Homo sapiens: one gene and its partners. The protein of the gene in region 1 purifies or fractionates together with the protein of each later gene. This does not show direct contact. Each region holds a gene or a part of one and is shown in the gene's direction. Other genes may lie near its edges. The genes, in order: FGD6, ZBTB21, KIF13B and COL4A4.

Evidence for each region.
Region 2: the proteins of FGD6 (region 1) and ZBTB21 purify together in Homo sapiens (affinity purification with mass spectrometry, with the first as the bait; one large-scale study listed by BioGRID). This does not show direct contact.
Region 3: the proteins of FGD6 (region 1) and KIF13B purify together in Homo sapiens (affinity purification with mass spectrometry, with the first as the bait; one large-scale study listed by BioGRID). This does not show direct contact.
Region 4: the proteins of FGD6 (region 1) and COL4A4 purify together in Homo sapiens (affinity purification with mass spectrometry; one large-scale study listed by BioGRID and IntAct). This does not show direct contact.

What each region holds. Positions count from the first base shown.
Region 1 is NC_000012.12:95,102,439-95,106,008, reverse strand, and holds part of FGD6 (FYVE, RhoGEF and PH domain-containing protein 6), read left to right. Parts: intron 1-922; coding exon 923-1,002; intron 1,003-3,570. UniProt on the Homo sapiens protein: May activate CDC42, a member of the Ras-like family of Rho- and Rac proteins, by exchanging bound GDP for free GTP. May play a role in regulating the actin cytoskeleton and cell shape.
Region 2 is NC_000021.9:41,989,847-41,993,416, reverse strand, and holds part of ZBTB21 (zinc finger and BTB domain-containing protein 21), read left to right. Parts: coding exon 1-2,522; 3' UTR 2,523-3,570. UniProt on the Homo sapiens protein: Acts as a transcription repressor.
Region 3 is NC_000008.11:29,253,045-29,256,614, reverse strand, and holds part of KIF13B (kinesin-like protein KIF13B), read left to right. Parts: intron 1-3,570. UniProt on the Homo sapiens protein: Involved in reorganization of the cortical cytoskeleton. Regulates axon formation by promoting the formation of extra axons. May be functionally important for the intracellular trafficking of MAGUKs and associated protein complexes.
Region 4 is NC_000002.12:227,157,668-227,161,237, reverse strand, and holds part of COL4A4 (collagen alpha-4(IV) chain precursor), read left to right. Parts: intron 1-3,570. UniProt on the Homo sapiens protein: Type IV collagen is the major structural component of glomerular basement membranes (GBM), forming a 'chicken-wire' meshwork together with laminins, proteoglycans and entactin/nidogen.

The sequences.
Region 1 (3,570 bases):
TGACAGAGTCTCACTCTGTTACCCAGGCTAGAGTGCAGTGGTGCGATCTCAGCTCACTGCAACCTCTGCCTCCCGAGTTTGAGAGATTCTCCTGACTCAGCCTCTTGAGTAGATGGGACTACAGGCTCAGCTAATTTTTGTATTTTTCACAGAGACGGGGTTTCACTATGTCGGCCAGGCTGGTCTCAAAGTCCTGACCTCAAGTGATCCACCCACCGTCGCATCCCAAAGTGCTGAGATTACAGGCGTGAGCCACTGCGCCCTGCCTGTTTATGCATTTGATTATTCATTCATGTAGTCATTTGTTCACTCATGCATTAATGTATTCATAGGATATTTATTGAGAACTACTATAAACAAAACAGTAATGGGTTTGGTGGAAGATATGAAGATAAGTTGAAGCATGATTCTTATTGTCTTTCCTCCCCCAGGGACTTAGCAACTAGTTGGGAAGACAGTACACTACACGTAAATACCTATAAAGTAGACAGTAATAAATATCACTATAAAGGCACAATTACAGTTTTGGGAATTCAGAAAATAAAGAACTTGCAGTGTTTGATGGTCATGGTGGGGACTGGCCTGTAGCTTTTGAGAGCAGCTAGGAAAGAAGGAGAAAGAGGAGGAAGAGCCAGTGGACCTTAAAGTATAGGTCACATTTGGCCATGCTGAGATGTAAGGGAAAGGCATTCCAGGTGGAGGGCATACTGTGAGCAAAGTCCTGGAGGTGGGAAAGGTGGGCTGGTGTGTGGGCTTTTCAATTCATCTGAAGCATAGAGTAGATGAAGGAGAACAGCAGTAGAGAAAGCTGGATAGGAAGATTGGTTGTGGATGTAAGCAGCCAGGGCCATTGGACAACTTCAGCTCATTGATATGGTTTTCAGTAGGATGAGTCGGCTCAAATTGTTGTGCTTTCTTCCAGGTCAGAAAACCTACCCAAGAAGCCTATCAGAATGAATTAAAGATTGAAAGTGTAGAACGTTCCTTCATTCTCTCAGCCAGGTAAATTTTTTCTTCTTCTTTTTTTTTTTTTTTTTCTCATTCTGAGTCTGCTTGCTAGGGAATGTCAGGAAAATTTTGGTTTTTGGTTTTTTTTGAGACAGCATCTCACTCTGTCACCCAGGCTGGAATGCAGTGGCACAATCACGGCTCACTGCAGCCTCCACCTCCATGGCCCAAGCAGTTCTCCCACCTCAGCCTCTTGAGTAGCTGGGACCACAGGCATGCACTACCATACCCGGCTAACTTTAAAAATATTTTTTTGTATGCCAGGTGTGGTAGCTCACCCCTGTAATACCAGGACTTCGGGAGGCTGAGCTGGGCAGATCACTTGAGGTCAGGAGTTTGAGACCAGCCTAGCTAACATGAACATGATTAAACCCCATCTCTACTAACAATACAAAAATTAGCCAAGTATGGTGGCAGGCACCTGTAGTCCCAGCTACTCAGGAGGCTGAGGCAGGAGAATTGCTTGAACCCAGGAGGCGGAGGTTGCAGTGAGCGAAGATCCCACCACTGCACTCCAGCCTAGGTGACAGAGAGAGATTCTGTCTCAAAAAAAAAAATTTTTTTTTTAGAGATGGGGTCTCCATATGTTCCCCAGGCTGATCTTGAACTCCTGAGCTCATGCAATCTTCCCACCTTAGCTTCCCAAAGTGCTGAGATTACAGGTGTGAGTCACTGTGCCGGCCTATTTTTAAGAATACATAAACATAGATTTTTGTGAGTATAACAGGGAAAGATATTGCCAACACTTTTTGCACTTAGGTTAGCTACTGACTTTTTGTTCTTCTTTTTCTTCTTTCCCAATACCGTGCAGTTTTACTCTTGATTTACCATGCAAGGAAGTGGCTGAGAGCAGAGGCAACAGTATGCTAGAAGCACAGAGATTAAAATGTTCTTCTGAATAGAATAACAATGGTGAAAGTGCTTTGCTGATCATTTTTTAAGTGGCTATTTCAAATTGTTTTTAAGAACAACTAGTGCTTTATAGGTTATTAGGAAATTTGTAGGTGTCACTTAAAGGTTCTAACAAACCTATGAGGTAGGTGTAATCTCCTTCTAAAAATTAGGAAACTAAATTACAGAAAAATGGAGTTGCTGTCTTACGGATACATATTTGACACAGCCAGGATGCAAATCGAAGTCTTTTGCTTTTAAGTCCATTGTTATGGGCTGGGTGCAGTAGCTTACGCCTGTAATCAAGCACTTTGGGAGGCCAAGGCGGGTGGATCACCTGAGGTCAGGAGTTTGAGACCAGCCTGGCCAACATGGTGAAACCCCATCTCTACTAAAAATACAAAAAAATTAGCCAGACATGGTGGCATGTGCCTATGATCCCAGCTACTTGGGAGGCTGAGGCAGGAGAATCACTTGAACCTGGGTGGTGGAGGTTGCAGTGAACCGAGATCACTCCACTGCACTCCAGCCTGGGTGATAGAGCAAGACTCCATCTCAGAAAGAATGGAGGGAGGGCGGGAAAAGAAATCCATTATTATTTATGATACCACCTTGCCCCAGACCGGAACCTGCAGTGACTTAATATGTTGCCATAATGTAATTCAAGTGCTGAGGAAACCTGAAACTCTATGACTCATAAAAATACATTACTGAGTTACTGACTGAGTGGCGGAAGTGGGTATTTGGGAAGGTTTGACTGGTGAAGGGAGAGATGCCAATAGTCATAGCATGCTCCACTGCACAATCTAAATAATGAGACACTGTCTTCTCAGACCTAACCTTTGATCTAATAAAAATAGAAGCAAACGCTTTTGTAACACTTACTGTATGCCAGGCACCATCATAAAGACTTTATGTGTAGTACTTCGTTTCATCTTCACAGCAACCTGTAAGGCAAGTTGTCGTTATTATACCCATTCTATGCTGAGAAAAGCCACTCAGCTATACTAGCAGAGCCAGGATTTGAAACCAGGCAGTCTGTTTCCAATTGTCCATACCACTGAAATCAACTAGGATCTTAGGAGCAGGTGGAGTAGTGGCCAGAATCATTTATTACTCTGCATCAGTCACAGTGCTCATGTTTCGTTTTATATTTATTTTCTCTTTTAAGTTCTATGATAACTTTGTGGGGTGGATATTATCTTGATCTTCCAGATTAGAAAAATGGAGGCTCAGAGAGGTTCAATAACACATCTAAGGTTACACGAGTAGTAAGCAGTGGAGCTGTGATTTGAACCTAGGTGTTTCTGACAACCTTTATAATTTTGCTTACGTCCATGAATGTCAAGGACTCAAACCAAATGTCTGACTTCCCAAAATCAGAGGACCACAAGAGTCATCCTGGGGTGTGCTACTCCTCTGAAATGCAATGGCTACTGCTGCCTGACATACAGGATGACAGGAGAAGACAAATACCTGTGTCTAGGGTTTGTCAAATGCTTCGCAGCTAGCAGTCAGAACAAGCAAATTTCTTGGGGGTACCTGAAGCATCCACCAGATACCAATATTTAGAGAGTGCAGGTAAACTCTCAATCACTTAGCATTGTGACTTTTTCTTTTCTTTTCCTTTATTGTTGTTGTGTTTTTTTTTTTTTTTTTTTTTTTTGAGAA
Region 2 (3,570 bases), on another chromosome or scaffold:
ATGATCCTAATAGAATCAGTTTGGTGAAAAGAAATGCAGTGTTGCCTTCAAAGCCTCTGCAAGACAGAGAAGCTATGGATGATAAACCAGGTGTGAGTGGTCAGCTTCCAAAAGGAAAAGCTCTAGAGCTGGCTTTGAAGAGACCACGGCCACCTGTTTTGTCTGTTTGTAGCTCATCAGAGACTCCCTATCTATTAAAAGAAACTAACAAAGGAAATGGTCAAGGTGAAGATAGAAACTTGTTGTACTATTCAAAGTTAGGCTTAGTGATCCCATCCAGTGGATCTGGTTCTGGAAACCAAAGCATTGACAGGAGTGGCCCACTTGTTAAGAGTCTCCTCAGACGGTCATTGTCGATGGATAGCCAGGTTCCTGTCTATTCACCTTCCATAGATTTGAAATCTTCCCAGGGATCATCTTCGGTGTCCAGTGATGCACCAGGGAATGTGTTGTGTGCTTTATCTCAGAAGTCATCTTTAAAAGATTGTAGTGAAAAAACAGCCCTAGATGACAGGCCTCAAGTGCTACAACCGCATCGCCTCAGGTCCTTTAGTGCTTCTCAGTCAACAGACAGGGAGGGAGCTTCCCCTGTGACTGAGGTGCGCATAAAGACTGAGCCCAGCAGCCCGCTGTCGGACCCCTCGGACATCATCCGCGTCACTGTGGGAGATGCGGCAACAACAGCAGCTGCCTCATCTTCGTCGGTCACAAGAGACCTGTCTCTGAAAACAGAAGATGACCAAAAAGACATGAGCAGACTCCCAGCAAAAAGGAGGTTCCAAGCGGACCGAAGATTGCCGTTTAAGAAGTTAAAGGTGAATGAGCACGGGTCTCCTGTGTCAGAAGATAATTTTGAGGAAGGCTCAAGCCCTACTCTCCTTGATGCAGATTTTCCAGATTCTGATTTGAATAAAGACGAATTTGGTGAGTTGGAGGGGACGAGACCAAACAAAAAATTTAAATGCAAACATTGCCTTAAGATCTTTAGATCAACAGCAGGTCTTCACCGTCATGTTAACATGTACCATAACCCAGAAAAGCCCTACGCTTGTGACATCTGTCACAAGAGGTTTCACACCAACTTCAAAGTGTGGACACACTGTCAGACCCAACACGGCATAGTGAAGAACCCATCACCAGCCTCTAGTTCACATGCTGTTTTGGATGAAAAATTCCAAAGAAAGCTGATTGACATAGTGAGAGAGAGAGAAATTAAGAAGGCCCTGATCATTAAGTTAAGGCGCGGCAAGCCTGGTTTTCAGGGACAGAGTAGCTCCCAAGCACAGCAAGTCATCAAGAGGAACTTGAGATCTCGAGCCAAAGGAGCTTACATTTGTACTTACTGCGGAAAAGCGTACCGCTTTCTCTCTCAATTTAAGCAGCATATAAAAATGCATCCAGGAGAAAAACCCCTTGGAGTAAATAAAGTTGCTAAACCAAAAGAGCATGCTCCTCTTGCAAGTCCAGTAGAAAACAAGGAGGTTTACCAGTGCCGCCTCTGTAATGCTAAGCTCTCTTCTCTCCTAGAGCAAGGAAGCCACGAGCGGCTGTGCCGGAACGCGGCCGTCTGCCCTTACTGCAGCCTCAGGTTTTTCTCGCCCGAGCTGAAGCAAGAACACGAGAGCAAGTGTGAGTATAAGAAGCTGACCTGCCTCGAGTGCATGCGCACCTTCAAGTCCTCTTTCAGCATCTGGCGGCACCAGGTTGAAGTCCATAATCAGAACAACATGGCACCCACCGAAAACTTTTCTTTGCCCGTTTTGGACCACAATGGTGATGTGACTGGTTCTTCAAGGCCCCAATCCCAGCCTGAGCCCAACAAAGTAAACCACATCGTCACCACAAAAGACGACAACGTGTTCAGTGATTCTTCAGAACAAGTTAACTTCGACTCGGAAGATTCCTCTTGTCTTCCCGAAGACCTTAGTCTTTCCAAGCAACTGAAAATCCAAGTCAAAGAGGAGCCTGTGGAGGAGGCTGAAGAAGAGGCACCCGAGGCCAGCACAGCCCCCAAAGAAGCGGGTCCTAGCAAAGAAGCCAGCCTGTGGCCCTGCGAGAAGTGTGGGAAGATGTTCACGGTGCATAAGCAGCTGGAGCGTCACCAGGAGCTTCTGTGCTCTGTGAAACCATTTATTTGTCACGTGTGCAACAAAGCTTTTCGCACTAATTTTCGACTCTGGAGTCACTTCCAATCGCACATGTCTCAGGCTTCAGAGGAATCGGCACATAAGGAATCTGAGGTGTGCCCTGTTCCCACAAACTCTCCCTCTCCACCACCTCTGCCACCGCCACCACCACTGCCCAAGATCCAGCCTCTGGAGCCTGACAGCCCCACAGGCCTGTCCGAAAACCCAACTCCAGCCACAGAAAAACTGTTTGTGCCCCAAGAATCAGACACCCTTTTTTACCATGCCCCACCCCTTTCAGCAATCACATTTAAAAGACAGTTTATGTGTAAACTTTGCCACAGGACATTCAAGACTGCATTTAGTCTTTGGAGTCACGAACAAACACACAATTGAAAGACCAACACTTTTTACCTATGGGAGGCAGTCCCCAGATTTCAACCTGAATTGTGAAATGTGTCATAAGAAACAAAATATTTTTTAAACAAGAATAATAAAGGTTGGAGATTGTTACGCTTGAAATTAAGTTGGAGGCAAATTGATAATTACTTAGTAATGTCCTTAACTTTAGAAATACAGCTTTTAAAATATTGTGGTTCTGGACCTTACAAGAACAAGATGGTTTGATTTCATTAATGTTGAAATTGGATTAGTCTTGATTGTGTGCATGGTTCCTCATTCCATGGTGTCAGTATAATCATTTAATTGAGGTTTTTGGTTTTTTATTGATTAGTGGAATACTGTCGAAGTATTCCTTCTTTTAATTATTTTAGACACTTGAGTTCTAGTTAAATCTTAACCATGTTCTTAAGTCCAAAATAGGAAGAAGTGGAGTAGTTTGCAGTATTGATTTATATCTTAGACTACTTTAGCAATAAAAGATAAATCTCAACTTTAATAAGTTATCCTGACACTTGATAAAAATAAATATTTGGTATTTTGTGGTCATGTAAAACTTCTTTTTGTATGAAAATTGTGAGAAATTTAAATCAGCAATAGTAACACTTAGATTTTTATAAACTAACAAAAACTTGCTCTCAGTCAATATAATAAATGATAGTTAAACTCTAAGGAAGACCTGGGAAATGAAAACAATTTATGGAAGTCCCCTACAGTCAGTTTATAAGGGCTTCAGTAGTGATAGACATTGTTATAAAAACTTGTACCATGTTACATGTACACTGCACCACAGTCTAAATTCAGACCAGCATTTGAAGGACTGCACATATTTCATTTCCTCTGATTTATGCTGTCACAAATTGAAAATCTGAGTGTAGTTAGGACAAAAAACAAAGCTAACCATATGGCACTAATTTTGATTTTAACATTAGTGTAACAAATAAGGTCGGGACATATATTTACATAGATCCCAGACACTCAAGAATTAGCACAGCTGATGTAAAATTCTAAATTACCATTTACTTCCAGATAGAGCAGAGGAGAA
Region 3 (3,570 bases), on another chromosome or scaffold:
GATGACACCATTTTCAAAGATGTGCAGGATAAACTGGAAGCATAAGTCTTGATCTTCCATCAAAGGAGCTCCCAGTCTTGTTGATAATAAGATGCACATGTGAGTTCATTGGAAGAATATATGTACCTAGTGCACTGATGGCAGCCAATCATGAATTAAAGAAATGGGGGTGGAATTTGAGAACAGCACAGAAGACAGCACAAGCAGGCCCCTTGGCTCCAAGTTCCACCGGGGTGACGTGGAGGAATCCAGATGGGTGCTGCACATACAGTGGGTTTGTGTCGGCATCTGAGGATCACTGAACTTGGGGAATCCGCTGCAAAGTCTCTGATTTAGATGACTAGGTGAATGCTGGTGTCATTAACTGAATCAGAAGCACAGGAGAAGCAGGTTTTAGGGTGGAGGTGTGGGAAATGATGAGTTCTAGTCTCAGTCAACAGTGTGTCGTCAGTGCTTATGTGCTGTGTACCCTGCCTGCAACTATGAATAAGATGCAGTGTGTGCCTGGAAGCAACTCAGCACAATTGAGTTTTAGGTGTCTGAAGTGCAGCCAGGTGGATGGATCCAGAAGGCCATTGTGAATATGAGTCTGAAACGAAGGGACTGGACGTAGGTGTAGATTTCGGAGTCATTACTGTAGGTAGAAGATAGAGCACCTCAGGTGTGTCTGTGACAGAGGCGGTCACAGAGGCCAAGAAGAGCAACCTCAGGAGAATCAGGTGAAAGCAATGTTGTGGATGCCTAGGGAGGAAAAATGTGTCAAAAGAGTGAAAGGTGAAAGCAATCACATGTCACAGGAATGGCCGCGTGATTAACACAGAATTGTGTTCAGTGGATTTGGCATTATGATGGTCAGTGTTCATTTTCAGGATAATTTCACTGAAACGAATTAATTGGTATTGGGCATTGGCAGTGGGCTGAGGAGTGAGTGGGCGTGCCAGTATGGAGGCAGCGAGTCTCAAGAACATTCCTCTGAGAAACTCCAGGTAGAAGGGGAGGGTTCAGAGTGGTACCTGGAGGGGTAGGTACCTTTTTTTAAAAAAAAAAGTTTTGGGGAGATATTTGAACCTTGTATAGATAGAGCCAATAGATAGAAGTTTTTGAAATATGGGAGGAAGAGAATAATTATATAATGGGAAAGCCCAGGAATTTCAAGCTTAATTTTCTTGATGGGGTAGAATGTGAGGTTATTGAAAGTAGGAGGAATTGGGTGAGCTGGGGTCTTCTGAGTAGTGAATGTGTAGGAATGTGGTTGAAGGACCCTAACTGTATTTTCTATCTATTGAGGGTACTGGGGTCATCCATTCCGAGTTTTTTCTTCTTGGTTTTTAGATATAAGTCACATCCCCAAAGTGTACCATTCACTGGGTTTTAGTTTACTCACAGACTTGTGCAGCCATTATTAGTATACAATTCCAGAACATTTTCATCACCCCACAGAGGAACCTTGTAACTGTTAGCAGTCAGTCTCCATTTCCCACTTCCCAGCCCCTGGCAACCACTAATCTACTTCCTGACTCTATGGATTTGCTTATTCTGGACATTTAATACATGGAATCCTATATTATGTGGACTTTTGTATCTCACTTCTTTCACTTGGTATAATGTATTCAGGGCTCATCCATGTTTTGTCATGAATCAATACTTCATTCTTTTTATAGCTGAACAACATTCTGTTACACAGATATGCTGTGTTTTGTATTCATTCATCAATTGATGGGCATTTGGCTTGTTTCCAATTTTTGGCTATTATGAATGATGCTCCTTTGAACATTTATGTACAGGCTTTTGTGTAGACATGTGTTTTCATTTTTCTCAGATACGCATATGTATAGGAGTGGAATTTCTGAGTCATATAGTAACTAACTTTTGAGGAACTGTTTTCCAAAGCATATGAACCATTTTACATTCCCATAGAAATGCATGAAGGTTCCACTTTCTCCACATCCTCACCAACACTTGTTCTTGTCTCTCTCCATGAGTATTGCTATCCTAGTGGGTATGAGGTGGTATCTGATTGTGGTTTAGATTTGCCTTTCTCTGGTAGATAATGTTGAGCGTCTTTTCATGTGCATATTGGCCGTTTGTATAGCTTGAGAGAGATCTCTATTCACATCTTCCCCTTATTTCAAAAACTATATCTTTTTATTACTGAGTTGTAAGACTTCTTCATACATTCTGTATACCATTCTGTTATCAAATAGATGATTTGCAAATATTTTGATTTTATGGGTTTCTTTTTCACTCCCTTGTGTCCTTTGATGCATGAAAGTTTTAAATTTTGATGAAGTCCAGTTTATTTTTAGTTGCTTGTGATTTTGCTGTGATTTCTGAGAAACCATTATCTAACATCATGTGGATTTTCATTTGTTTTCTTCTAAGAGTTTGATAGGTTTAGCTCTTACATTTAGATCTTTGATCCAGTTGGAGTTTTGAATGTGGTATGAGGTAGGGATCCAACTTCATTCTTTGGCATGTGGATATCCAGTTGTTCTAGAACCATTTGATGAAAAGACTGTTCTTTCTCCATTAGATTGTCTTGGTACCCTTGTCAAAATCAATTGACCATAACTGTGACAGTATGTTTCTGGACTCCCAATTCCATTCCATCAATGTATATATGTCTTTCCTTATGTAAGTACCACACTGTCTTGATTACTCTACCTTTGTATTAAGTTTCGAAACTGGGAGTCAAGTCCTCTGACTTTGTTTTTCTTTTTCAAGATTGTTTTGGCTATTCTAGTTCTGCCTTAAGCGGGTTTTTTTTTTTTTTTTTTTTTTTTTTTGAGACAGTCTCACTCTTCTCACCCAGGCTGGAGTGTAATGTCGTAATCTTGGCTCACTGCAGCCTCTGCCTCCCAGATTCAAGCAGTTCTCCTTTCTCAGCCTCCTGAGTTTCTGGGATTACAGGTGCCTGCCACCCTGCCTGGCTAATTTTTGTATTTTTGGTAGAGATAGGGTTTCACCATGTTGGCCAGGTGCCTTATGAGTTTTTTAAATACCTGTTTCTTAGTCTTCTGAGGTTGATTGGTTTCTTTTTTAAACTGTTTATTTGTTTAGAGATGGAGTCTCATTCTGTTGCCCAGGCTGAAGTGCAGTGGTGTGATCATAGCTCACTATGACCTTGACCTCCTGGGCTCAAGATGTCTTCCCACCTCAGCCTCCCAAAGTGCTAGGATTACAGGCATGAGCCACTGCACCCAGCTGATTCATTTCTTGAGTATGAACATTTTATGTTTTTGGTCACATAGGATTATTTTATTTGTTTTCAGATATGGGGTCTTGCTCTGTTGCCCAGGCTGGAGTGTAGTAGCACAATCATAGCTCATCACAGCCTGTAACTCATGGGCTCAAATGATCCTTCCATCTCAGCCTCCTGAGAAGCTGGGCTACAGGTGCATGCCACTACACCTGGCTAATTATTTTTTTTAAATTTGTTTTAGGGACAGGTTCTTGCTGTGTTGCTCAGGCTAGTCTTGAACTCCTGGCCTCAAGTGATCCCCCTGCTTCAGACTCCCAAGTAGCTGGGGGATTATTTTAATTATTTTCACACTATCACATCTCCTCTCC
Region 4 (3,570 bases), on another chromosome or scaffold:
TTAGGGCAGGGGCCATTTTTGTGTTCTTTACTGATGTTGAATGAATGAGTGAGGCTGTTACTGTTTCCTGAATGAATTAATGAAAGCACAAATGAAGTTGAATGACTTGTCAAATTCACCCAGCATTCACACTTAGTCTGGTTTCTTCCTAAGTTCATGATCTACCTCTAGCCTTCATTGTAGAGGGACGAGCCTCTACTTTTAATGAGATACAAGATACACCTCTTATGCTGCCCACAGCTGCTTCATTAATCTTGTTTCATTTCATCTCCCCTCTTAGCCATCCTTTTCCTTTTAAGAACTTTCTCTTTTCCATACCTCTGAAACAATTAGGCTCTTGGGTGCTTTTAGAATCTGAGTGATTACCAACTCATATCATTTCTTGCCATTGCATCTCTGGACTCCTCTTCTGCTTCTCTAAGTTCGTGGCTCCTGCCTTGCACTATCATCTGTGGATTATGGTAGCTATCTAGCTAGTTTTCTGTCCTGCAGGCTTTCTACTCTGAAACTCATCTTCTATGTAATTATCAGAGTTACCAATTAAAATTGCAAATTATGCTAGCAAGGACAGGTGACTTTAGAGGCAGTTACAAACAATCCCCCCAGTCCAGAGGCTTATCATTATGGAAGTTTTCTTATCATTTCTACTACATATTCATCACGGGACATGGGGAGGTGGGAATGGGGTGGGGGTCCTCTGTTTATTGTAGCCACTCAGGGACCTCCTGGAAATTCCCTCTCAACATCTTCTCTAATCACCTCAGAAGGGGAAGAGAATGTGCTAAAGTAAAACTACCCTTCAACCTTCCTCCTAGATGTGACACAGGCTACTTCTACTCACATTTCACTGGCTAAGTGGATCACGTGATCATGCTTTATTCTGTAAGGGGCAGGGAAATGAAATCTACCACATGCCTGGAAAGAGTGGGAAACAGGTGGCAAATGTCAGTAATACTCATCACACACATCGTGCCACTTGTTTGTTTAAAAGCTTCCAGAAGTTCCCCTTTAACTTCACAACTGATTTCACATTTCTTGGAATAGAATAGTGTGGTCTCAAGTCAACATTTTTGTTTTATCTCTTGTGTCATCCCAAGCTTTTTATGATTTCTCTGGTTCACTATACAGACTTCCTCACCTCACACCTTCGTATTTACTATTGCCTCTGCCCACAGGGACCTCCTTCTTGGTCTGTCTTCTACAACTACCTGTGCTTTAAGATCTAGGTCAAGGATTAAAGAGCATGGTCCCTGTGAACACCTTTGTCCAGAACTTTATTATATAGCACAGAAATAATATGTGGTGATTTGTTGTTCTATATTACAAAGCCTTTGAGGGAATGTTCAGAGATTATTTGTTAAGTGTATTAGTCTGTTCTCATACTGCCATGAAGAATCACCTGAGACTGGGTAATTTATAAAGAAAAGAGGCTTAATTGACTCACAATTCTGCATGGCTGGGGAGGCCTCAGGAAACTTACAATCATGGTGGAAGGCACCTCTTCACAGGGCAGCAGGAGAGAGAATGAGTGCTGAGCGAAGGGGGAAGCCCCTTGTAAAACCATCAGATCTCATGAGAACTCACTCAGTATCATGAGAATAGCATGTGGGAAACCACCCCCATGATTCAATTACCTCCCACTGGGTCCCTCCCATGACATATGGGGATTATGTGATTACAATTCAAGATGAGATTTAGGTGGGGACACAAAGTCAAACCATATCATTAGGGAATCTAAAAAGTATATTTCTTGAGGTATAATCTATGTTCCATAAATTGCATCCACTTAAAGCATGGAATTAAAAAAGTTTTGCCGATGCATCCACCCTATGAAACCACCACTGCCCATCAAGCTGCAGTATTTTTCTATCACTCCCAGAAGTTTCTTTCTGCCTCTTTGCTATCCATCCCTCTTTCCAAACCCCATCCTCAGACCACTACTGATCTGCTTTCTGTCACTGTAGACTTCATTTTAGTTGGCATTTTCTAGAATTTTGTGTTGACGGAATTATACCGTGTATACTATCTTACATCTGGCTTCTCTGACTCTGCATAGCAATATTCAGATTCATCCATGTTGTGTAGATTAGGAGTTTGTTATTTTCTATTGCTGAGTAGTAGTCCATTGTGTGGAGATCACACTTTGAAAAAAAGTCCATTTACCTATTTTTGGGAATTTGGATTGTTTCCAGTTTGGGGCTACTACAAATCAAGCTACTATGAATATTTTTCTACAAGTCTTTTTGTGGGCATGCATTTTCATTTCTCTTAAGTAAATACCTAGGAATGAAATGGTTAGGTCATATGGTAGATGTACATTTAATTATAAAAGAAATAGTTTTCCAAAGTGGTTTTATTCTACCTTCTCAATGCAAGGTAGAATACCATGCATAGGAGTTCCAGTTGCTCCATATATTTATTTTGCTGTTAATTTTTTAATTTTAGCCATCCTAATGTTTATACAGAAGTATCCCAGAGTGGTTTGCATTTCTCCAATAACTAACGATGTTGAATATCTTTTAATGTACTTATTGAACATTCATGTAGCTTCTTTTGTGAAGTGCCTATTCAAATCTTTTTTCCGCTTAAAATTTGGCTTTTTATCTTCTTATTGTTGAATAGTAAGAGTTATTTATATATTGTGGATACAAGATCAATGTTAGATACAAGTATTGTGAGTATTTTCTCCCATTCTGAGAATTGTCTTTTCATTTTCTTATTATTTTTAAGAAGCAAAAGTTTTTATTTTGATGGAATATAATTTATAATTTTTTTCTTTTGTGATTTGTGCTTTTCTTGTTACCTGAGAACTCTATACCTATGCCAAAATTGCAGAAATTTTCTCCTATGTTTTCTTCTTGTGTAGTATTGTTACTTTTACCTCAATGATCTCTTTTAAGTTAATTTCTGGGTATGGTATGAGATAAGGATTCATTAAATTTTTTTTCCATGTGAATATCCACTTGTTGTGGCACCAGTTGTTGAAAAGACTTTTTCCCCCACTAAATTGCCATGATTGCCATGGCACCTTTGTGAAAAATCAATTGATCATCATGTTTGAGTCTTTTGGTTCCATTTATCTACATGTCTATTCATTTACCATCATTCTTATGACTAGTTTTTTAGCAAGACTAGTGTAAGTCCTTCAACTTTGTTGCTTTTTATAAAAATTGCTTAGGCTATTCTAGGTCATTTGCATTTACATATATATGGATTTTATTTGTTAATATTATGTTAAGGAGAGTCATGTTTATATTCACAAGATATATTGTTCTGTAGTTTTCCTGTAATATCTTTGTCAGTTTTGGTATCTGAATAATGCTAGCCTCATAAAATAAGTTGGCCAGCACTCTCTTTTTTTCTATATTCAGAAAGAGGATATAAAAAAACTGGTATTATTTTTTCATTAAATGTTTGATAGAATTCACTAGTAAAGCCACCTAGCCCTGAAGTTTTCTTTGGGGAAGGTTTTTACTTACAAAATTCATTAATTATAAATTTAATTGCTATAGGGCCATTTAAATTTTCTATTGTTTCTTATGTCAGTTTTGATAATTGATGTCTTTCACA